Linked DNA regions of Homo sapiens: all the other regions are reported to be linked to region 3. The links are microRNA targets in miRTarBase. Many come from high-throughput screens and were not tested one by one. Region 3 holds a microRNA gene; each other region holds the end of a gene's coding sequence.
What was found. Region 3 holds the annotated microRNA hsa-miR-381-3p (UAUACAAGGGCAAGCUCUCUGU, at 3,360-3,381, shown strand). A microRNA usually pairs through its seed, bases 2 to 8, with sites in the 3' UTR of a target mRNA and lowers its output. Matches are read on the target gene's strand: a 7mer-m8 pairs with bases 2 to 8, a 7mer-A1 pairs with bases 2 to 7 and ends in A, and an 8mer does both.

Region 1: miRTarBase lists ZNF181 as a target of hsa-miR-381-3p. Seed matches in the 3' UTR shown: 7mer-A1 at 4,900-4,906.
Region 2: miRTarBase lists SLC16A14 as a target of hsa-miR-381-3p. Seed matches in the 3' UTR shown: 7mer-m8 at 929-935 and 7mer-A1 at 2,676-2,682.

The regions. Positions count from the first base shown.
Region 1 is chr19:34,740,221-34,747,764 of GRCh38, reverse strand. ZNF181 (zinc finger protein 181) reads right to left here. Exons shown (of 4, transcript NM_001029997.4): 4 at 2,387-7,154. The coding sequence ends at 5,668. It overlaps LOC124904698 (a long non-coding RNA gene), which reads left to right. Exons shown (of 2, transcript XR_007067235.1): 2 at 1-881. Among named protein-coding and RNA genes, the nearest start is that of ZNF181, 9.8 kb to the right of the region's middle.
Region 2 is chr2:230,030,251-230,037,750 of GRCh38, reverse strand. It overlaps SLC16A14 (solute carrier family 16 member 14), which reads left to right. Exons shown (of 5, transcript NM_152527.5): 5 at 220-2,769. The coding sequence ends at 371. The region is part of intron 1 of LOC107985996 (a long non-coding RNA gene); the gene reads right to left. Among named protein-coding and RNA genes, the nearest start is that of SLC16A14, 35 kb to the left of the region's middle.
Region 3 is chr14:101,042,609-101,050,152 of GRCh38, forward strand. MIR381 (microRNA 381) reads left to right here and starts at 3,312; the gene lies at 3,312-3,386. It overlaps MIR1185-2 (microRNA 1185-2), which reads left to right and starts at 1,590; the gene lies at 1,590-1,675. It overlaps MIR381HG (MIR381 host gene), which reads left to right and starts at 2,549. Exons shown (of 3, transcript NR_104192.1): 1 at 2,549-2,576. It overlaps MIR487B (microRNA 487b), which reads left to right and starts at 3,847; the gene lies at 3,847-3,930. It also overlaps MIR539, MIR889, MIR1185-1, MIR544A and MIR655. RefSeq lists enhancers at 3,157-3,657, 3,658-4,158.

The DNA.
Region 1 (7,544 bases), not on the chromosome of region 3:
TTTTCCCTTTGGCCTTGCTAGCTCTAGATTAAGTATTTCTCATCTTCTGGAATCTTTGTGCAGAGAATGTGGCACACTTACAAAAGTAGAGATCAGGACTTGGTTCGGTTTTCCAGGGTGGTGTGGAAGCAAAGAGGCTAAGTAACAATAATAACTACATTTATTGAGTTCTGAGGGTAACTTGTTATGTAGCACTTCATTTAATCCCAATTTCCTCAGAGTTAGGTTCTATTATTCCTGCTTTACAGAAAAGGAACCTGAGGTTTGGAAAACTTAAGTTATCTTCTCAGGGTCACACAACTCTTGGCGGAAACTCACATCCTGTATGTTGAGCCCTTGAGCCTTTGTTCTTTCTTCTTCTTCACCACCATTCCTCCTCAGTGGGCTGGGGAAGCCTGAGGTGATACCTGACAAAGATTTCTCTTTCTTTCACCAAACTCTAGCTAGGCCCCTCTGAGCCTTCTTTAATAGGCCTGTCAACTTTTGCCTATTAAGACTTGAACAACACTAACACTTTCTAATAACTTTTAAAGTGCTGGCCTGAAAAACTCAAGGCTGTCCAAAGAATTTCTTCCAGCCAACACCTGAAGATAAGACCCCTGTCTCACAGTCTCTGTGGGAGGATAGGATCCTAATTCAAGTGCCAGTAGCAAACCCAGATAGACTGCACATAGACCAGCCCCCTCCCTTCCTGTGTTTTGTAATTTTTCACTTTTCTGACTCTACTGAGCCCCTCTTCTCCACCCCCTCCCTATTTCCTCACCCTTCCTTTAACATACTCATTCACCTCTGTACAAATCAAAGCTGGGTTCAGTTCATGCCAAATTCCTTTCCCCATTGCAATAGTTATTACCAATTAAAGTCCGTTCTCCCCACTGTCATAAATGTCCAGCTTTGTTCATCTTTGACACACCTAGTGAGCTTTGCAAGGTAGGCAGGACTCCCTCGGCAGGTAAGCGTGGTAATAAATGGGGTATGGGACACATTCTAGGCAGAAGGAACAGCATGGCCAAAGGAGACATTTTTTTGTTCAGGGAGGCCAAGAGAGCCTGTATGGTTGCCAAGAGAAACCCCAGTCTTCTGAGATCTGTCCTAGGAGGGCAATATTGTGTGGTCTTTTACTGAATGTTCAAATGTAGCCTATATTCCTAAGATGTGTGACTCTGAGAGAGACTCAGGTCACTAGCATGAAGATGATTATGGCATTTACCTTACAGTATGTGGGAAGATTATTAAAAGCAGGAAAAACACGGCAACAAACTTCCATGCAGAGGCACTTTGTTGCTTGCTTTATAAATCTTTTAATTCTTACAACCAGCTGGTAAGATGGGAATTGTTTTTGTTTTGATGGAAAAATTGGGAAATGAAGTGACTTCACCAAGTTTATAGAGTAAGCAAGCGACAGTCCCAATAGGCTGAATTCACACCTAGGAATTTGGATCCAGAGCATAGAACATTTAATTGTCTCAATGCAGCACACAGTGCAAACACAAGGCCCAGTTGCTGCTGCTATTAACAGTATTGTATTATGATTATAGTTTTTCCCTATTTATCTTTGATGCCAGAGTGCTTACACTCTGCACCTCTTGGGCCATATGGCCTTGTCATTGTCTTGTATCTTGCATCAATTACTTTTGCATATAAAGCTTTTTTCTCTAACACAATTGCAATTTGTTTAAAGACTGACTCCCCCTCAGCAGCAAAAAAATAAGTTCCCAGGAAGTGCTCAGTGATATGTGCCTTGCTTCTTTCTAGATGTTTACCAACAACTGAGCTCTAATCACATCTGACTGGCCCAAGGCTAACAAGGAAACTGTTTGACTTTCCAGGCATCAGTGACCTTCAATGACAGGCTCTAACCTCCATTTAGGAAGAGTGAAAGCAGTGGCACCCAGCCCACAGGACTCTGTATTCAGAGATGATGATGAAGACCTGTAGGCTTCTGGTCTCTGGGTAGAGCCTCCCCTTTCCTTCATGTGGAAGCCTGATGCCTCCTTCACTCGGCCCGTTTTCCAAATCTGTAGGGCACCCTCCTTCCTTCCCATAGACCTGCTAGGTTCCCATCTCATCTCCTACCTGGTCTCTTTGTTTCTCCTCAGATTATTTAGGGCAAGAAACATTCCCTCCCTCAAAATGGCTCAGATACTCAAGAATTTGTTGGAAGTTAATCGGGGGGTTTTGTAAGAGCTCTCCTCTAAAAATGTTAAACAGTAAACACATGGGAGTGACAAGTGATTAGATGTGACCTTTGAGACCAGAATGATGAAGCAACCATGAGAAGACAATGATGATGTAATCAATAGCTAATACTTATTGAATGCTATTGAGAGGCCAGGGATTGTTGTAAACACTTTACACCAATTAATGCATTTAATCTTCATAATAATGCTGTGAGATAGCTTTATTATCATTTTACAGATGGAGAAACTGAGGCAAGACACAGTGAAATAGTTTGTCCAAGGTCACACAAAGCCAGTATTCATGCAACTTGGATTTAAACCCAGGTAACATGACTCCAAAGTTTAATGCTGTTCACACACACACACCTCAGGGCTCTTAAAGGGTATGGAGTGTTTCTTATCTATTAAGCCCATAGTGGATGCTCAAGAAATGGTTAATAGGTATGACTGAGGAAATAATATGATGTCAGTGACATCATAACATCATTATGACATCAGCCCAACCTTCTATCATAACAAAGTAATAGTCTCTTATTGCTCTCTTAAAACTATCTTCATTTAAAAAGATGGCCTTCTTTTTCCTAGTTCTGTATTGTGAAGGCACTTTAAATCCAGAAACGTAAAGCATTATCATGTGTATGCCCATGCTTTTTAAATGACAAAGCACAGGTATTTCGATGAATCCTCTCATAACAAAGTGACATGGTAGCATTAAACTATGTGTAGTGGAAACAAAATCTGGGCATTATAGGACTACTTCATCTCTGTGGTACCAGTTGCTTGGGAGAGCAGAGAAAGGACACAGAATGAGAGAAAAGAAAGCTACTCTCATTATCCCATAAGTATATATGTGGTAGCCAGTCTATCCATACTTGCAACTGTCTGATACCACATCATGCTTCCTTAATTGTATTTATTTACTTTGGAGACAGGGTGGTGTTCTGCTGTCCAGGCTGGAAAGCAGTGGTGTGATGATAGCTCACTGTGACCTTAAAACTCCTGTACTCAAGCAATCCCTCCCCACTCAGCCTCCTGAATAGCTAGGACTGCAGATGTGTGCCTACACCTGGGTAATTTTTTTTTTTAACAGACTAATGAGTTTTGCTATATTGCCCAGGCTGGTCTCAAACTCCTGGCCTCAAGCAATCCTCCTGCCTCGGTCTCCCAAAGTGCTGGGAGTACAGACATTAGCCACTACATCTGGCCCTTCCCTAATTATAAATCTTCCAAAGATCCTTCAATGTTTCACAGAATTTCAATATAAATTTCATGATTAAAAATAAATCAAATGAAAGATAAAATCCCTGCAAAATAGTAAAAGTTTACCACCCCATTCCAAACCTACTGTCTCTTGCAAATTGCTATTGGAATATGCCTCTGTGCTTTGGCTTTCTGTTAAGGTAGCACATATATCAGAGGAGATACATTTTGTTGAAAGTCAGAAACCTTATCACTCATTCCACACCAGAATTATCATAACTATAACATAATGTTCCTTTTTAAAATAACATATCTTACTACTCTCACCTGAGATAAAGAACAAAATCTGAAGCATAATCCATATCACACCCCTTCACTTGCATCAGTGTCCATACACTCCAAATCAAATTGATCTGCATTACCTTTCTAATCACAAGATAGGATTCTAATCACAGGGCCAGTGAGACTGTTCCATTTCTTATCTAGAACTTAGAATATTTGAAGCCATCCTGCCTCCTTACAAAACATAATTATCTGTCAAGGTTCAGTGCAGAGAACAAAATCTCTCTTAACTATTTCAAGACATATATTGCTGCAAATTAGTGCTTTCAAAATTGGTAGGTGGGCTGTAAAAGTAATGAGAACACTTCTGGGCTAGTGATTTCAAGGTAAACTCCCGTAACTATGACTCAGGGATAGAGAAATGACGGTTGCTGCAATGATGCTGCCAGCAGCACTACCTCAAAGCCACAGAATCTGAAACTAGACATGGGAACGTGGAATCCAGCTGCAGCAAGTATGACAGAACTCGACTGTCTGCTTTACCTAGATTAACACCCAGCACACCGCATACACACACGCACAGGCACATGCAGGGATGCACATGGCTACATGAGTAGTACTCATTACATAATTAGTGTTCATCATTTAGGATTCATTTCAAAAATCACATCTCGCTAAGCCTGCTCTGATCTCTTGTAGTATGTTGTTTCTTGGTTATGTCCTCATAGCACTTGTAAACCATTATTTCAAATTTATTTGCTATCCATCTTTCTTGTCAGATAACATCCCTGCGAGAAAAAGATCAGATTTGTTTTGTTCATTATTACAATGGTTATCAAAATGTGCTTTCTGGACAGTGTGTCGCCTAAGAACGCATGAAAAATGCAAATTCAAATCAACTCATACAGAAACCCTAAGATTCAGACTTAGCAATCTGTGCTTTAACAAGCCCTCCTACTGACTTTGACACACCACTAAAGCTCAGAACTACTGGATTCCTATATCCCATCGCTGTGTAATAATACACGAGTGATGCTCAGTAAATTTTTTTGAAATGTATTTGATTAAGCCTACTGGAAATTGACTCTGAATAATCCTCATCAAAATACTGCTATTCTTAGTATAAAGAGCAGGTCATTTTTCTCTAGGTTTGCTAGTCTCCCACTAAAGGCTACGCTAAGGCTAATCTTAGTGAAATTTTTTTTACAGGAAATAGTCACAGTGAAAGAGTTTGTGATATACAAAATGATTTTATTAGATGCCAAAACTTTTATTAACATCACTTTATTTCTTTTGCAGCTTTAATTTTCAATATTATAACACTTACTGGCTCCTCTGGGTGACTAAATATCTTCACATGCCCACTAGCTAAAAAGAATTTCTAAGTAGAACTCAACTGAAACTGCAAGCTACTGCTCTAAGAAATGCATATTTTATTATAATGTTTATTTGCTCTCCTGTAGAATCCAGTTTACAAATAGCATGACTGCAAAGATTTACACATAACTCCTAAATCCTTCAGGTTGTTCTACCATTAATCTTCTGATGTGTACCAAGATAAACACTCTTAGTGAACACTTTGCTACATCTCTTAAATGAGATTTCTCTCCATTTTGAGTTCTCTGCTGTAGAATAAGGGATATACTTGGAACTGAAGACTTCCCTCAATTTCTAAATTTTCTACATTCATACAGCTTCTCTCCTGTAGGAGTTTGTAAAAGATTCCTATTGTCTGTAGTCTTTCCCACATTTGCTACATGTACAGGGTTTTATCCTAGTGTGAGTATACTTATGTCAATTAAGGGATTAATACTGACAAAGGCTTTCCCACATTTATGGTCTTCATATGATTTCTCTACAGTATAAAGTCTAATAAACAAACTGGCCTGCATCTTTGCTAAAAGGTCTTCCTATATTCACCACATTCATAAGACTTTCCCCAGTATAAATTTTTCTAATGTTAAATAAGGGAGAATCTAGGAAATTTACCATGATAACCACTGCTTCATACAGTTTCTCTTCTGTAAGATTTCTCACATGTATAGTGATTCATATAGTCTAAAGGCTTTTCCACACTTACCACACTATTGGGTTTCTCTCCATTATGTACTCTTTGATGGGCAGTAAGATTTGAGCCTTTGCTAAAAGCTTTCCCACACTCATTACATTTATATGGCTTTTCTCCAGTGTGAATTCTCTGATGTACGGTAAGGTTTGAACTACAGCTGAAGGTCTTCCCACATTTAATACATTCATAAGGTTTCTCTCCAGTATGAATTCTGTGATGTTGAAGCAGGGATGACCTATGACTAAAGGCTTTCCCACATATACTGCATTCGTAGGGTTTCAATCTAATGTGATTTCTCAAATGCATATTCAGTGATTCAAGCTGGTTGAAGGATTTCCTGCATTTCTGACATTCAAAGGGTTTTTCTTCAGTATGAATACTCTGATGCTGAACAAGAAATGAGAGGCTACTAAAGACTTTCAGACATTTGTTGCATTCATATTGTTTCTCCATAGTGTGAATTCTTTGATGTCGAGTAAGGTGTGAGCTACAGCAGAAAGCTTTCCCACATTCTCTACATTCATAAGGCTTCTCTCCAGTATGGATTTTCTGATGGTGAATGAGAGATGACCTATGAATGAAGGCCTTTCCACATATACGACACTCATAGAGTTTTTCTTGAGTATGAATTCTTAGATGTTCAATAAGATGGGACACACGACTAAAAGACTTTCCACAGTTCATACATTCATATGGTTTCTCTCCAGTGTGAGTGCTCTGATGGTTAGTAAGTGATGAGACATGGCTAAAGGCCTTCCCACATTCAATACATTTGTAAGGTTTCTCTCCACTATGGCTTATCAGATGTCGTGTAAGGGATGAGCCATGGCTAAAAGTCTTCCCACATTCACGACATTCATAGGGCTTCTCTCCTGTATGAATTCTCCAGTGGCGATTGAGGATTGACTGTTTGCCAAAGGCTTTCCCACATTCACTGCATGTATAGATTTTCTCTCTATTACAAGTCTGGGGAAGGGTAAGAGATTTGCCCTGGCTGAAGGCTGCCCCACTTTTATTAGAATTCAAAAGTTTCTTTCCACCATTGACTTTCTCATTTTTTATAACTGACTTTTTTGGTAAGTTCTTCTTTAATATATCATATTTGTGTGAATTCCCTTCAGCAGAAATTTTTTGTGGTTCAGAAAGAGTAGACTTTGAATGAAAGGTGCTTCTAAATATATTGTATTTGTAAACACTGTCTGCAGTGGGGCTTTCTCTAGAGGTGAGAATTGCTGGTCTGAAATGGTCTACCTGACTTCCATGCTTCCCTTCCAACTTCTCTATATATTCCAAATTCTTCTTAGAATTTGAAAATTCATAACTTTGTTTTACAACTTTTTCTATTATTACTGTTTGGGGTGAATCTTCATCATAATTATCCTTCTTTGTTGATAATTCCTTGTTTTCCCATCTTGATTCCCAATCTGAAATACATCAAAAAAGCAAAGCACTGTTTTGTTTTTTTTTAACTATTTGAAAAGAAACTTCTAAATTGGAATTAGGAGAACTGGATTAGAAATGAAGCCCCCAGAAAACACATAGTTCTGACAACTGAAATATTTCAATGATTTCTGAACAGTGCTCAAATGGAGCAGAGAATACAGAGTTCACAGAAGTGGGAACACAGTGTGATAATGGAAATGGGAAAAATATATGTAATGGATGAAATAGTATGGAAAAAAAGGAAGTTATCAGAAATAAAATGTGGAAGGCATTCTGGATTCCAAGCCATCATTTTGTGCCTATATGCATGTATGAAAGATTGCATTTTGTCTCATAGCCTTTTTCTCCAACATTCAATTAATCTCAATTTG
Region 2 (7,500 bases), not on the chromosome of region 3:
TGTACAGCACACCCTTTAAAATGGCTAAATGAGAACCAAAAAATATAAAAAACAAAAAAAAAAAGGAAAAGAAATGGATAAATGAAACATTTTATTGGTATGAAATGACATATAAATTCTTGTAGAAACATGTACAGCAGCAATAAATGCCTGCTTCATGTTCTTCACTTTCATTGTATCAACTCCATGACACTGAATATATTCTTTTTTGTTTTGTAGGGTGGATCTATGACATCACGCAAAAATATGATTTTTCCTTCTACATATGTGGTTTGCTTTACATGATAGGAATACTCTTTTTACTTATTCAGCCGTGCATTCGAATTATAGAACAATCCAGAAGAAAATACATGGATGGTGCACATGTTTAGTATCATGTAATGTTCCGTGTAGGTTTCATTGTAATACTCATGCCTACCTCGCATGGTTGCTGTGAGGCACCTATGACAGGACGTGGGAAAGCATTTTGTACGGTAACTGGCACTGTCATTTGTAAATGCCATTGTCACAGCCTCATTTGTAAGCAGCACTGCCTCTCTGTTTGGGGAGATGTAATGCTGGAAGATCTTAAGGACTACATACATTCTAGAGATGACAGTGTTGTTCAAAGACAGCCTAGTAAGTAATTGGTAGAAATGCCCTTATAAAAACCATTCTCTTGTCATCTACTGGGACTAGGGTTTTAAATACAGCTTTTAAAAACAAAAACAGGGAATAAAAGCTTTTCAACTCAACCACTTCTTTGTAAGACAAAACTGAAGTATCTGTGTGCTTCCAGAAAGCTTACAGATAAATGGGTTTCAAGCACAAGAATATGACTAGATTTCAGAAATTAATTATTACAGGGAGCTATTGATCTACTAGCATCAAACAAAGGCAAGCTCTAATTCCACAGGTAATACAATTTAGTGCAATTAAAGAAACACGGCTTGTATTTTTATGAGGGAATTCTGCAGCTAGGGATTGTGACTCCTAAATCCTCCTCTAAAAGAAGGCACTTGCCATTAATCCTAATTCAGTGCTATCCAGTTATAAATGGAATCTTGAGACAAAACCTTAACAAAGAAATAACAGTAATGATTTCCTTAGCAGAAGCCGTATTTGTACGCACAACATTAAATCAAGGGCTACAATTCAAGCACTTTTATTCGTATCATTGGCCTCTTAGATGATATAAGCATGAGGTGGGGCCTGTAATATTTTTTTCTGAGTTTCTTCTGCCCAAAAATATAATATAGAACTAATTGCTAACTGACAAATAAAGTTAATAGTTAAATCATCTCCAAGGAATGTTGCTAATCCAAAGTATAACACTATCAATTTGTGAGGATAATAAATGGAATGCCATTAGTGTAGATGTCTGTGCCACATCTGACACTGGAGTAGTGATAACAAATAGCCCATCTCTAGACTCTCGTGTTGTTATATAGACCATTCATTTGCCTGAGCGTGGCACAGTTTTAAAAATAGTTCTCTTGATTGATTTCATACAGAAGATGACTGTGATCCATGACATCTAATAATGCCCTTTCTTTATCTGAGATGTCTATTTTTCTAAGCCAAACGTTTTTCAGACTGCAGAATGTTCTTCCCAGATCATTTGAAATTTCTGGCTGCCTTACTTGTTTACAGATAGTTTAAGACTATTTAAATTTCTACTCACAATTTGATCATCACACACACACAAATCCTTGAATATCATTGCCAGTGTCTTAGGTCAAATTTACCTAAAGTGAATACAGCCCATTCTCAATTATCCTTCACAATTAGACGCAGGAATGCTACTAGGAATTGGAATCAAACAATGCCACCCCAAGCGTAATTTTAGCCAGCAGTTTCAGTTATACTCAACCATGCCCTTCTGAGCTGTTAACAAGTGATTCAATGGACAAGTTCTCTTTTTGTTCCATCTCCATTATTTCCTGCTCTAATGTATAGTGGGAGTGGTTGTGTAATGAAAGGACCACCAAAATAATAAAAGGCAGCTAATGGAAAGGAGAGACAAAAGCATGGTTAATATATATACTTAATATTACCTCCAATGACTCGGGAATTGCCTGTAAATTATTATAGACAATAGATTGCATGTCATACTCCATTTGGTTCAACACAACAACCTATGTGTTATCATTACAGCTTTGGCTGCTGTTAAAGAATCCAGCTCTCTATTTTGATAAAGATAATCTTAAAGCTGAGGCAATGCTCCCTCCTCTATCTCTCTCTGTGTAATTTACCATAGAATTAGGATGATTAGATTGAAACACATGTTGTATGTTTTAAAAACTACATTGCTTCATTACTTTCATTTTCCGACAACATCAAACTAACAAGAGGCAGTGTTAAATATTTTAAATGGTGCTATAGCCAATGTATTTGAATGCTTGCACTGCTGGTTGTGTATCATCAATATGAACTTTTTATCCAATGACTCAACTCTAATTACATCTAAGTTAGACTTGCTCACGTTCAGTTTGTACAGTTGTGTGTTGACTTACTATGTTTTGAAAGTGGTGACTTCTACCGAATGAGTGGAAGTTCCCATTGTCAAAAAAAATAAAGACCTGCTTGCAGTATTCATGTTGACAACAGAGTAAAAGAGAATACTGTAAAGAATTACTGCAAATATTTCCTGTTTATGTTATTTGCCGTTGTTTGAAGATATTATAAAGGGTTAATTGTATATTTATATCATGTGCTTTATCGTTTTCCCCTCATGTATCCAAGTAATTTTTATTTACATACAACTAAATAAATGTTGTCCTCTTTGAAGACGGTCAGTGAGTTTTTGTATAAAATTTCTATTTTGTTGGCCTCGAAGAGAATAATCCTAAAATGTAGGTGGTAATTATTTGTTTCATTCTTTCCCCTGAAAAACTATTTCTCTAGGTATATTCACAAACCACATGGACAGAATCACCTAGAATGATTATGAAAAGTGCTGAGTCTAAGTATTAAATTTAAAATGCACACATCTTTGAATCCAGCAATTGTATTTCTAACATCATTTTCTACATGTGAACACAGACTAATATGTAAGGATTTTTTGTTTATGGTTTGTTATATAAAAGACTGGGCCGGGTGCAGGCGGTTCACGAGGTCAGGAGATTGAGACCATCCTGGCCAACATGGTGAAACCCCGTCTCTACTAAAATACAAAAAATTAGCCTGGTGTGGTGGCGGGCGGCTGTAGTCCCAGCTACTTGAGAGGCTGAGGTAAGGGAATCGCTTGAACCCGGGAGGTGGAGGTTGCACTGAGCTGAGATCGCGCCCCTGCACTCCAGCCTGGCGACACAGCAAGACTCCTTCTCAAATAAAAAAAATTAAAAAAAAAAGACTGGAAAGAATTTAAATGTCTACCAATAGATAACCGTTAAAGTATAGTACAACTGTTAAAATACAGTATAAAGTATTTTAAAGTATAGACAATAATACAGCGGAATTTATAGAATTATTAAACAAAAAAGGCAGATCTATATGTAGAATTAGGAAACAGCCTGAAGATATAGTGCTTTTAAAAAAAAAAAAAAAAAAAAAAAGCAAGATAGGCTGGGCGTGGTGGTTCATGCCTGTAATCCCAGCACTTTGGGAGGCCAAGGCGGATGGATCACTTTGAGCTGAGGAGTTTGAGACCAGCCTGGGCAATATGGCGAAACCCCATCTCTACTAAAAATACAAAAATTAGCTGGGCGTGGTGGTGGGCACCTGTAATCCCAGCTACTCAGGAGGCTGAGGCAGAAGAGTCATTTGAACCCAGGAGTTGGGTTGTGCCATTGCACTCCAGCCTGGGTGACAGAGCAAGACTCTGTCTCAAGAAAAAAAGAAAAAAAAAAAAGCAAGATAAAGCAATATGTTTAATATGCCCCCAATTATATGTTTTCATTACAAAAAAAAAGTCATTCATATATATAATAGGCTTAGACATGAATTGACAATTGCTGGGAAGAAACATAAGGAAACATAAGAAAACATTAATAGTTGTTGGCTCCAGGGAAGAAAATCTGGGGACTAAGGTAGGTCTGATTTTTTTTTCCTTATGTACATAATGCTTTTTCAATTTAAAACTTGTATCCAAAATTATTTTGAATGCAGATACTTGGGCCTACTTAAAACCTAGAGAATTGAGAATGGGACCAGTAAATCTCCCTTTTTAGATAAGCTTCTCAGTAGATTCTTATGCATATTAAAATCGCACACCCGGTCTCAACATATTTAAGGGCAAAATATTCCAGTGAATTTCAAATACTTGTCCTGAACCTCTCTCGTTATTTCCTTTTATACAGCATTCTGGTCAATTACTATCTATAAAGACTTCACAGTATATAATCTTTTACTCGGTCCTTTTCCAATCAACAAATGTGGACTGGGCTTCTATAGGAGCAAGGCAGGCTAATGCAAAACCCCTGCCCTCAAGCAGCCTGCATGCATAAGTAACCTACTACTCCAGTGCAGGAAGAGTGATAACAAAGCCAAGGGAAATGACTCCTGACGTGTTTAAATGAAGCTAGAGCCTGCCATGGTGGCTCACGCCTGTAATCCCGGCACTTTGGGAGGCCAAGGTGGCTGGATCACCTGAAGTCAGGAGTTCGAGACCAGCTTGGTCAACATGGTGAAACCCCATCTCTACTAAAAATACAACCATTAGCCAGGTGTGGTGGCATGTGCCTGTAATCCCAGCTACCTGGGAGGCTGAGGCAGGAGAATTGCTGGAACCCAGCAGGCAGAGGCTGCAGTGAGTCGAGATCATGCCACTGCACTCCAGCCTGGGCGACAGAGCAAGACTCCATATCAAAAACAAACAAAAAAAGGTGTAATTAATAATATGAAAGAAGTAGGGCTGGGTGTGGTGACTCACGCCTGTAATGTCAGCACTTTGGGAGGCTGAGGCTTGAGCCCAGGAGTTTGAGACCAGCCTAGGTAACATAGTGAGACCCTGTCTCTACAAAAAAGTTTAAAAAGTTAGCTGGGTGTTGTGGTGTGCACCTGCAGTCCCAGCTACTTTGGAGGCTGAGGTGGGAGAACTACCTGAGCCCAGGAGTTCAAAGTTGCAGTTCAGGAGCCGGGATCACATCACTGCACTCCTGCCTGAGTGACAGAGTGAGACTCTGTCTCAAAAAAAATAAGAAGTAGCAAAGTTCAATGAAACAATTAAAGAACTATCACTAGGAATGACCACTTGTCAAATGAAAGATACAGACTACAAGTGCTAGTGTTACAGTTCTGAAACTTGGGTTTCAGACACAAACAGCTTTAAATAGTGATTCCTCTAGACCTCTAATAAACAAATACACCCCACCATTGGTGTAAATTTCAGAAAGAAAAAACCAGGAAACAGGAATGTTTGCTATTAACCCAGCTAAAACCTGATAAAAATATTTTAAGAGCTGTATAGTCGAAAGTACATTTAATTAAAACCAATATTTAGGCTATATATGTATACATACATTTATTTGAGTCCTCTGTTCTCTCTGTAACAGCTTCTCAGTCAACTGAATTTCTTGCGAAACTCCTGCTAACTATATGTGCTCCCTCTGTTTCTCCTCTCATTGACATGATTTTTGCCAAGGATAATGTAAAACCTTACTGGCCATTTGGAAAACAAGAGCTTCTGAAAGTGGCTACTCTAGGACTTGTTCTTCCATTTACTACTGTCTCTTCTTCCTCTTGCCACTTTTGACACCAAGAAAACTTCTAGCAGCCCAAGGACCCTTCAGGAACACAGAAAGGACATCACAGACTCCTCCTTTTTGGGTAGGGTACCTCTGTTTTTCCTCACGGAGCCCCAAGAATCGTGGGTGGACAGGCTCCTCTCAGTCTAAAGTGCTACTCTTTTTTTGTTGTTTTTTTTGAGACAGTCTCACTCTGTCACCCAGGCTGGAGTGCAGTGGCATGATCTTGGCTCAGTGCAACCTCTGCCTCCTGGGTTCAATCAATTCTCCTGCCTCAGCCTCCTGGGGAACTGGGACTACAGGCACATGCCACCACGCCAGGCTAATTTTTATATTTTTAGTAGACATGGGGTTTCACCATGTTGGCCAGGATGGTCTCAAACTCCTGACCTCAAGTGACCCTCCTGCCTCGGCCTCCCAAAATGCTGGGATTACAGGCATGAGCCACTATGCCCGACCTAGCTCTACTTTCTTTTATATTGAATTCCTTGATCTTTTCAACTTTCAGATGCATACATGTTTATGTGTTTTAGTTATATGTTGTGTCTACATATACACATATGTCTATACTTGTGTTTGGATATTGTCTACATGGTACCAAATTGCCGTAACAATAAATGAGTAATCAAAAATTAAATAAATAAGCCCAAATATTTTTCAAGTTCTTGTGACTTGAGTAAATCTTTTGGTAAATATGAGTAGTTTAATATAGTTGGTTTAATAAAAACAAATGTCTTTTGACTTATCAGCAAAATATGCATGTATTTAATGTTAAGGTGATTGCTTTTATGATACTTAGATAACATATGATAATATTAATAGCAAAATGGTTAATACAAAATTTAAGTTGAGATGATGGCTAGATTTGTCTAACGGCTCATGAAATTTTTCCAAACATAGTTGTTAAGAAAGAATAAGGCTGGGCACGGTGGCTCATGCCTGTAATCCCAGCACTTTGGGAGGCCGAGGTGGGCAGATCACCTGAGGTCAGGAGTTCGAGACCAGCCTGGCCAATATGGCGAAACCCCATCTCTACTAAAATTACAAAAATTAGCCAGGCATGGTGGTGTGCACCTGTAGTCCCAGCTACTCGGGAGGCTGAGGCAGGAGAATAGCTTGAACCCAGGAGGTAGAGGTTGCAGTGAGCCGAGATCGCACCACTGACTCCAGCCTGGGCGACAGAGTGTGACTCCGTCTCAAAAAAAAAAAAAGAATAATTAAAATAAATGTAAATAGGAAAAAAGTTTATAAATTGACATAATAATTATGTTTTATAATATATTTACTTTAAGAGGTTTCTAGGCTGGGCCCAGTGGCTCACGCTGTAATCCCAGCACATTGGGATGCCAAGGCAGGCAGATCACTTAAGGTCAGGAGTTCGAGACCAGCCTGGCCAACATGGCAAAACCCCGTCTCTAGTAAAAATACAAAAATTGGCTGGGTGTAGTGGTACATGCCTATAATCCCAGTTTACTTGGGAGGCTGAGGCAGGAGAGTTGCTTGAACTCAGGAAGCAGAGGTTGCGGTGAGCTGAGATCATACCACTGCCCTCCAGCCTGGGTGACAGAGTGAGACTCCTTCTCAAAAAATAAAACAAAATAAAAGGTTTCTATATCCTTAGAGTTTTGCTAAGGCAAATTACATGATAAATATTCATTAAATATGTAGGTCATTTCCGAATAAGATATAATGCTATGACATTCAGTACTAAATATTAGTTTAATCTTACATACTTTTGGCTTCTTATTTCAGAGAAACGAAATATATCTGGATGTTAGTAAATATGTCCTATTCCACATTGAAAAATGGTTCCATGGCTAGGCGTGGTGGCTCA
Region 3 (7,544 bases):
ATGATGCATGTGACTGCATCTTCTAACCTCCCTTAGCCAGTGTTCACCAGGAGGGCTTCCTGGAGGCAGTGGCTTTGGGCAGAGGCAGAGGTTCTTCTCCCAGGGTGTTTTTGCAGGCCCTAAAGGGATTTCAGCCATTTTACATTTACATTATTTCAAATGGTACAGGATTGCCTGTCTTTTGGTAACCAATCCTGTCGTGAAGAGATGCTGGGAAGTAAAGTCAACTGTATGGCAGGCCCCAGCTCCAGGGCCAGCCAGATGAGGCTTGTCACCTGGCCCCTCCCCCTTGGTCTCAGGCCTCGCAGGAGGAGATGTCCACTCCGGCGAAGACCCGGCATAGTCCTCACCTGCTCTTTGAGCCACTCTTTGGTACTTGAAGAGAGGATACCCTTTGTATGTTCACTTGATTAATGGCGAATATACAGGGGGAGACTCTTATTTGCGTATCAAACTCTGTCGAGGAAGACGCTCAGACCCTGCTGTCTCCAGGACAAAGCCTCGGATGTCAGCCCCTCTCAGGTACGGCTTGGCTTCCCTGTCTGGGAACGTGAGCTTGGCTGTGATCCTAGCCCTTGGGTTCTGCCTTCGCTCTCTGTGCTGGTTCTTCCTGTGGACTCCCTGGAGGCAGTGGGAGAGGAGGGTCCTTTTTGTGTGCACTGAGTTTAATGGTGGTTTGCTTTTTTTAAGGATAAATCACATGGATCTGCCTCTTCTCCATACCAAGTCATACCCAGAGGGCTTCCTGCGTCCAGCACTAACCTCGCACCTCTCCGGACACACGAATGGGTGGTGGATGGTGGAGCGCAGAGCTGATGCTGCTTCTCACCTGCTACTCCCCTGACCTGCCACTCCCTGGTGGTCTCCATCCTTGAGAGAGTGTCAGCCTTGAGGGAAGCACATGGATGTCAGGTTGTTCTAAGGCAAGTTACTGGTGGAGCTCCCTGAGCCTGCCTGTGCCCTCTGGGACTGTCGCTGGACTCCAATGGCCAGTCCTCGGAGCACATTGTCCAGTGATTGCACCTGAGTGTGCCTTGGGCAGGTGTGTCTGGTCTTCAGGACTCCTTTGTCGCTAGAGTCTGACGCTGGGGCCCTCTTTTTGTTTGTTTCGAGGTAGGTACAGGTGACACATTCTTGGATCTGGTCATCTCTAGGACAACCAGCCTCAGAGGAGAGACATTGTCTCAGCGCTCTCCAGCTCTGAGAATGCCTGCAGATGCCTTCTTCTCTGATAACTCCATGTCTTGCCGGGCTGAGCCCTCACACCCTGTGCCCCTTTGGAGAAAGGTGATGGTTCCATTGTCCATGTAGCTTGTGGGTATTTGAAGCAGGTTCACCCATGCATGCTGAGCACACTGATAGTCATGCCTACCTGTTCCCTTGTTTAGAAGCCAGTCTCGCCTGCAGGGAGTCCTGGATGTGCCACCTTTCGGGGCCAGGCCACAATGTGCAAGGTGCAGGCCCAGCTCCAGGGTCAGCCAGATGAGGCTTGTCACCGGGCCCCTCCCCCTTGGTCTCAGGCCTCGCAGGAGGAGATGTCCACTCCGGCAAAGACCCGGCATGGTCCTCACCTGCTCTTTGAGCCACCCTTTGGTACTTAAAGAGAGGATACCCTTTGTATGTTCACTTGATTAATGGCGAATATACAGGGGGAGACTCTCATTTGCGTATCAAACTGTCGGAGAAGACACTCATACCCTGCTTGTCTCCAGGACAAAGCCTCGGATGTCAGCCCCTCTCAGGTATGGCCTGGCTTCCATGTCCGGGAACGTGAGGTTGGCTGTGACGCTGCCCCTGGGTTCTGCCTTCGCCCTCTATGCTGGTTCTTCCTGTGGACTCCCTGGAAGCAGTGGGAGAGGAGGGACCTTTTTGTGTGCTCCAAGTTTAATGGTGGTTTGCTTTTTTAAGGATAAATCACACATTGATCTGCCTCTTCTTGGTACCAAGTCATACACAGAAGGCTTCCTGTTCCCAGCATCAGCCTTAGAAGGGGGACCTGGATGTTGGATCATTTCAAGGGGAACACAGACAGCAGTGATGGTGGACCACGGAGCACTGGCTCTGTCTATGCTGTTTTCGAGCCTGGTAGGCCAGCCCCAGGAGGGCTTCCTGGAGGTGGTATTGACCTTGGGGAAGGGGCTGAGGTGTGCTCATCAGCGCTTTTTTTTTTTGATGCTTGGGTGTTCATGATCCAGCTCGCAGTCCCCAGGCTGAATCTGTAAGAATGGTTTGCTTCTATTTGTCATTTGTGATTGCCCATGAAGGCAGCGCTGGGGATGAGCCGTGGGAGCTGTCAGCCCCGCACCAGGTGCGTGCATGTGGGAGGTCAGAGGGCGCCTGCTTCTGCCTCGATGTCTGTGCCCCGTCTCTGACTGCTGGCTTTCTGCTCACACCTAGGATGGCTGCCTGAGAATGGGACTCTTGTTCTGTGTTTGTGGAGACACTCCTTGGGCCGTGTGACTGCCGGCTTTTTACACCCCGACTGCCATGGGGGTCATCTGGACCCGAAGCCAGCTTCAGGAAGGACATTCGCAGCATCCTCAGCCCAAGGAAAGCGAACGTCCAGCTGAAGAGAGGTGAGCACCACGCCTGGGTAATGAGTCACATAACCTGCCACCTGGACCAGGCGGCTCCCGCTCCTCTCCCCTTCTTGAAGGAGAGACCACTGTGGGGAATGGGCTGTGGGTCTGCTTCCTCAGTTACTTGGGGGTACGTGGGGTTTACTACTGTTGACCCTGTGCTCTTTCTTAGCATGGCTTCATGGCCACGATGCCAGCCTCTGGCAGGGGTGGGGCAAGGGCTGGCATGGAGAATGACACTGGTGTCAACGGCTCTGTGAGATGGATGAAGGGATGGTGACCACAGGGCCTTTGCTTTGTCTAAGGTGTAAATTCATCCAGTGCCTGGGACCTCGGTGCTGAGTGCATCCTTAGGAAAACTTCCTGGAGAGGTGCCCACACTGGGAAGGAGATGGTGGTCCCACCCCAGGGAATTCCTATAGAAAGTGAGAAGCTGAGCTCTGCGTGTGCCCAGGAAGGCCCGTGGGGTGGATCTCCTTTTCAGGAACAAGTTCTAATCTGGAGTGATGCCTGGAAAAGAGGCTGATTCTGGTGAAGGGGCACTGGCGTCTGCCCCTTCCTGGCCCCTTTGGGATGGAGAGCTGACCTATGGGCACACAGCTGGCAGGTGGTGTTTGCCACCTGGTCTGCTGATCCCGCATCTCCCACCCCCTCCCCCGCCAGGATGAACCCCGGGAGAGGAGGCCGGCCCCGTGAATGATAGTGAGGAACCTGCCCAGTGCTATTGTTTGGTACTTAAAGCGAGGTTGCCCTTTGTATATTCGGTTTATTGACATGGAATATACAAGGGCAAGCTCTCTGTGAGTATCAAACCTTGTCTTGGACCCAGTCCACACTCAGCAAGGGATGCGGTATGTGTGTGCATGACCGTGTGTATCCGTTTTGTGTGTGGCAAATCGTTCACGGGTCCCCACTTCACAGAGAGGACTTCACGGGCACCTGGATGACTTTAGGGAAGGCAGTGGCCTCTGGGACATCCCCTCTCCTGGTGCAGTGTGGGCGGGGCCAAAAGCATGCACGATGTGTGTGGTCTGGGTCCCTGCTTCCTGAGCGGGAAGTCATCAGCCCGGGCCGATGGCTGGGGTGGCGCTCGTGTGGGGTAGTGGCTTTGTGGTCCCTGCTGTTACTCGGTCCGTGAGTGTGCATGTTCTGCTTGGGGTATGTGACCCGGTCCACTAACCCTCAGCATCTAATTCATCCCCAGGACCGCGCCTTGAAGACGTACCAAGTCCACCCAAGGCAGTGGCTTTCTTTTCCGTGCTAACCTTTGGTACTTGGAGAGTGGTTATCCCTGTCCTGTTCGTTTTGCTCATGTCGAATCGTACAGGGTCATCCACTTTTTCAGTATCAAGAGCGCAGACTCTGGAGCTCGATTTCCTGTGTTTGGATCCCACCTCTGACATTTACTAACCGTCCAACCTTGGGCAAGGATCTCATCGTGCTGTGCCCATTGTCTCACATGTCAAAGGGGAATCACATTGGCGTCCATTTCTTGGGGCTGCTGGGGCTGAACGAGTTAAGACTTGTACACGGCTCAGAGCAGAGCCCCGTGGTCGGCACTTCGTAGGTGGTAGCCAGGACCCTTGTGTGCTGTGAAACTATCATTGGTGGTGGTGGTGGTGGTGGTGGTGGTGGTTTTATGACTAAAATCTCTCCATGGGTTTTTGGAACAGTGTCAAAACATGGAAGTCAAGTCCTTCATCGGGTATGGAATGGACTAGGAAGCCCAGAGCATACACGGTGTTTACAATGGGGGCTAGTGATGCTCTTGATGCTTGGCAGCTAAGCCATTCACACAGTGGCTTTTGATACAGAATGCCACATGCAGTGGGGGTCAGCAGGGGTGCCGAGAACATTTGCTCCACTTAAGAGAGACAGTCCCTGGGTTCTTGACCTCGGCCACTATCTACGCTTTGAAGGAGTCTTGAGCGAGGATGCCAAGCTGAGTGAGGATTCTATGGCATCTTGCTTCCCTGGTGCTTAAAGAGAGGTCAAACTTGGTGCATGCATTGTGCATGCCTGTGTGTGCGTGGTGTGTGTGCATGAGCGAGTGTGTGACTGGGTTTGCCACGAAGCAGTCACCATCTAACCTTGAGCCAAAGACCTGGAGGTGGTGGTCCGTGCTGCTGTTTCATACTTGAGGAGAAATTATCCTTGGTGTGTTCGCTTTATTTATGATGAATCATACAAGGACAATTTCTTTTTGAGTATCAAATCTTGCCTCGGCAGACTTCCTGGACGCCATGACAAGTTCTGTAAAGGGATGCACGCATCAGCCCTTCCCAGGGGCTCACGCCTGGGTGGGGATGAGGGCGCATGCAGTTGGTTTGTGGTGGGGACACTTGTGCCCTAACCTCAGAACCCTGGAGGCGGGGCCACGCTTGGCAGGGGGCCACGGGACTCCTTGGTGCTATCAGGGATTTGCATTGGCCATGGGTGTGTGTTGTGGGTGACGCAGCATTCAAGCTACTTATCAAATCCTGCTTCTTGGAGGCACTTCTTGGACATGAAGCAAACCTTAGGGACCGATCATTGGGGCCAGACCCCCTTCCCCTGCCCAAGAGTGTGACTGACCCCCAGGCATGGGCTTGACTCTCAATGTGTGAAGCTGACCTGCTAATCCTCATTGTTTGGACTACCTGAGAAGAACTTTCTGGAAGAGACACCAACTTTGGAGAAGATGCCCAGCTCTTCTTGATGGCACAGTTCTTTGGTGCTTAAAGAATGGCTGTCCGTAGTATGGTCTCTATATTTATGATGATTAATATCGGACAACCATTGTTTTAGTATCCAAATTTGCTTCAGAAGTTTTTGAAAGCACAGTGCTGACTTCAGTGAGGGGACATTGGTGCCTGCCCCACCATGGAGTGTGACTGTGTTGATGATTTATAATGATGAATCCAGTGATCTCAGAATGCAAGCCACCAGTGTGATTTCCTTGGACAAATGCTAGCTTTGGGGTGGAGATGCCATTTAGGGGCTTGGTGCCATATCTTTTTATTGGAAGATGTTCACAATTATTTCATCTCTCTTTCTCTTCTTGTTATTAAATCTTAGCCACGAGGAATTCCTTGGAGAGATGCCGGGGTCAAGCCTCTCTCTAGGTAGATGGTGGACCGGGGAACCTGGGTCCAGCCTCTCCTATCTGTAGCCTTCATTCTGAGTATGAAACACTTCCTGTAGGGAATGCAAACATTAGTAAAAACTCCGTACATTTCCTGTTACTATTACTACTTTTTGGCAGCTCCTAAGCAGCTGCCTGTTGGGTATTTGGATTATTCTTGGTGGACGTGGCATGGCTTCGTGCCTTCCTTGGGAACCACCCCATCTTAGACAGACTCTCATGGAATAAGACGTTGTGGTCGACAGCACCTCTGGGGTGTGTGTGTGTGTGTGTGTGTGTTTGTGTGCGTGTGCATATGAATAGTTGGCTAGAGTAGTGTTTCTCAAACTTTAAAAATGCTCCTAAGATTTTCATCACCTAGGGATCTTGTTAAAAAGCAGATTCTGATTCAGGGACCAAGATTCTGCATTTTTAGCAAGTTCTCAAGTGATGCTAATACCGCCGGTCTGTGGACAACACTCACAGTGGTTTGGGGCTGGAGACCAGGTGCTTTCCCTGTGATATGTGTCGCCTGTCTCCCCACATGCCATATACCGTCCATCGTGGGAGAACGGCCCAGAATCAACGTGCCATGTTTTGGTTTGTGAACAAGGGTTCACTTTCACATGCGTAAATAGCATGAGATTACTTTTCTTTAAAATCAAATCATGCCTCAAAGGGCTTCCCAGATACAAGACCTGCTTCAGGGAGGGGCCGCCGGTGTCAAGCTGCTGCAAGATTGTCGGGTGCAGGTCAACGGCACGCTTATTCATTATTGATGTGCTGGGCCCTGGAATTCTGTGACCCTCCGTTTCCAAGCAGTCATCGGGAGGAAATTCCAGGAACTGAGACCATCTCTGCGGTAGGGACCCTGTCTTCAGGGATCAGTGACACCCCATTTTATCGGAAACAGAATTCTTCATGATGGCTTTGCTTATCTCTGACATGCATTCTGCTGGTTCTCGTCATCAAATCCCGTCTTTCAGGAATCCGTGGAGGAAGCTTTCATATATTTTTAATGGAACCTGCCTTAGAAGTCTTTCTGAGCATGGTTCCAATGTCAGGGTTTTGACTTTGGTGCCAGGGCTGCCTGGGCCCTGAGACTGAGGTACGGGAATGGAAGGTCAATGCCAGTACGTGTGCTTTCTTTGCAGGATGTGAACACCTCCCTGCCCCAACCCTGGGATTCAGCTCATCCCAAGAAGAATCTTCTGGAAGCAAAGACAACGGTGGGGAAGAGGCCATGGTTTTCGTTTCAGAACTATGCAAGGATATTTGAGGAGAGGTTATCCGTGTTATGTTCGCTTCATTCATCATGAATAATACATGGTTAACCTCTTTTTGAATATCAGACTCTGCCTCGGAGGGCCGCCCCCACAGGAGACGTGAGAGTGTGTGCCTTGTGTGAGCTGAGAGCCCCTGCCCCGGCTCCGTGCTGCGTGAGGGAAGCTTCCTGGAAGTGAGGCTGGTGGAGGGAAGAGCCCTGGGTTGCTTTGCTGTGTTTGCTGTGAATGCGATGTGTTTTTGCGAGTTATGTGAGGTTCCCTCCTCTTTGAATGCCAACTTGTGCCTTCCCCCAGTGGCTGGGTCTGTGGCTTAGCCACAGGGCTAGGTCCCTTCCTGGACCCAGTGCTTTTCAGGGTGGGTCCCTGGGGGCAAGGACAAGGTTTACCACTCCACTGGGACACTTGAGGAGAGGTTAACTCCTCCATGCGGACTCCTTTGAGGACAGCCTGTTTTCCTCTCAGGGTGGCTCCCTGGATGAAGTCCAGCACCTCTGTGGGTGTGTGAAGGGCAGGCCGACTTGGGCTGTGTTCCCACTCCTCACCCAGGTCACTGGCCCAGTGCCACTTCCTCCTCAG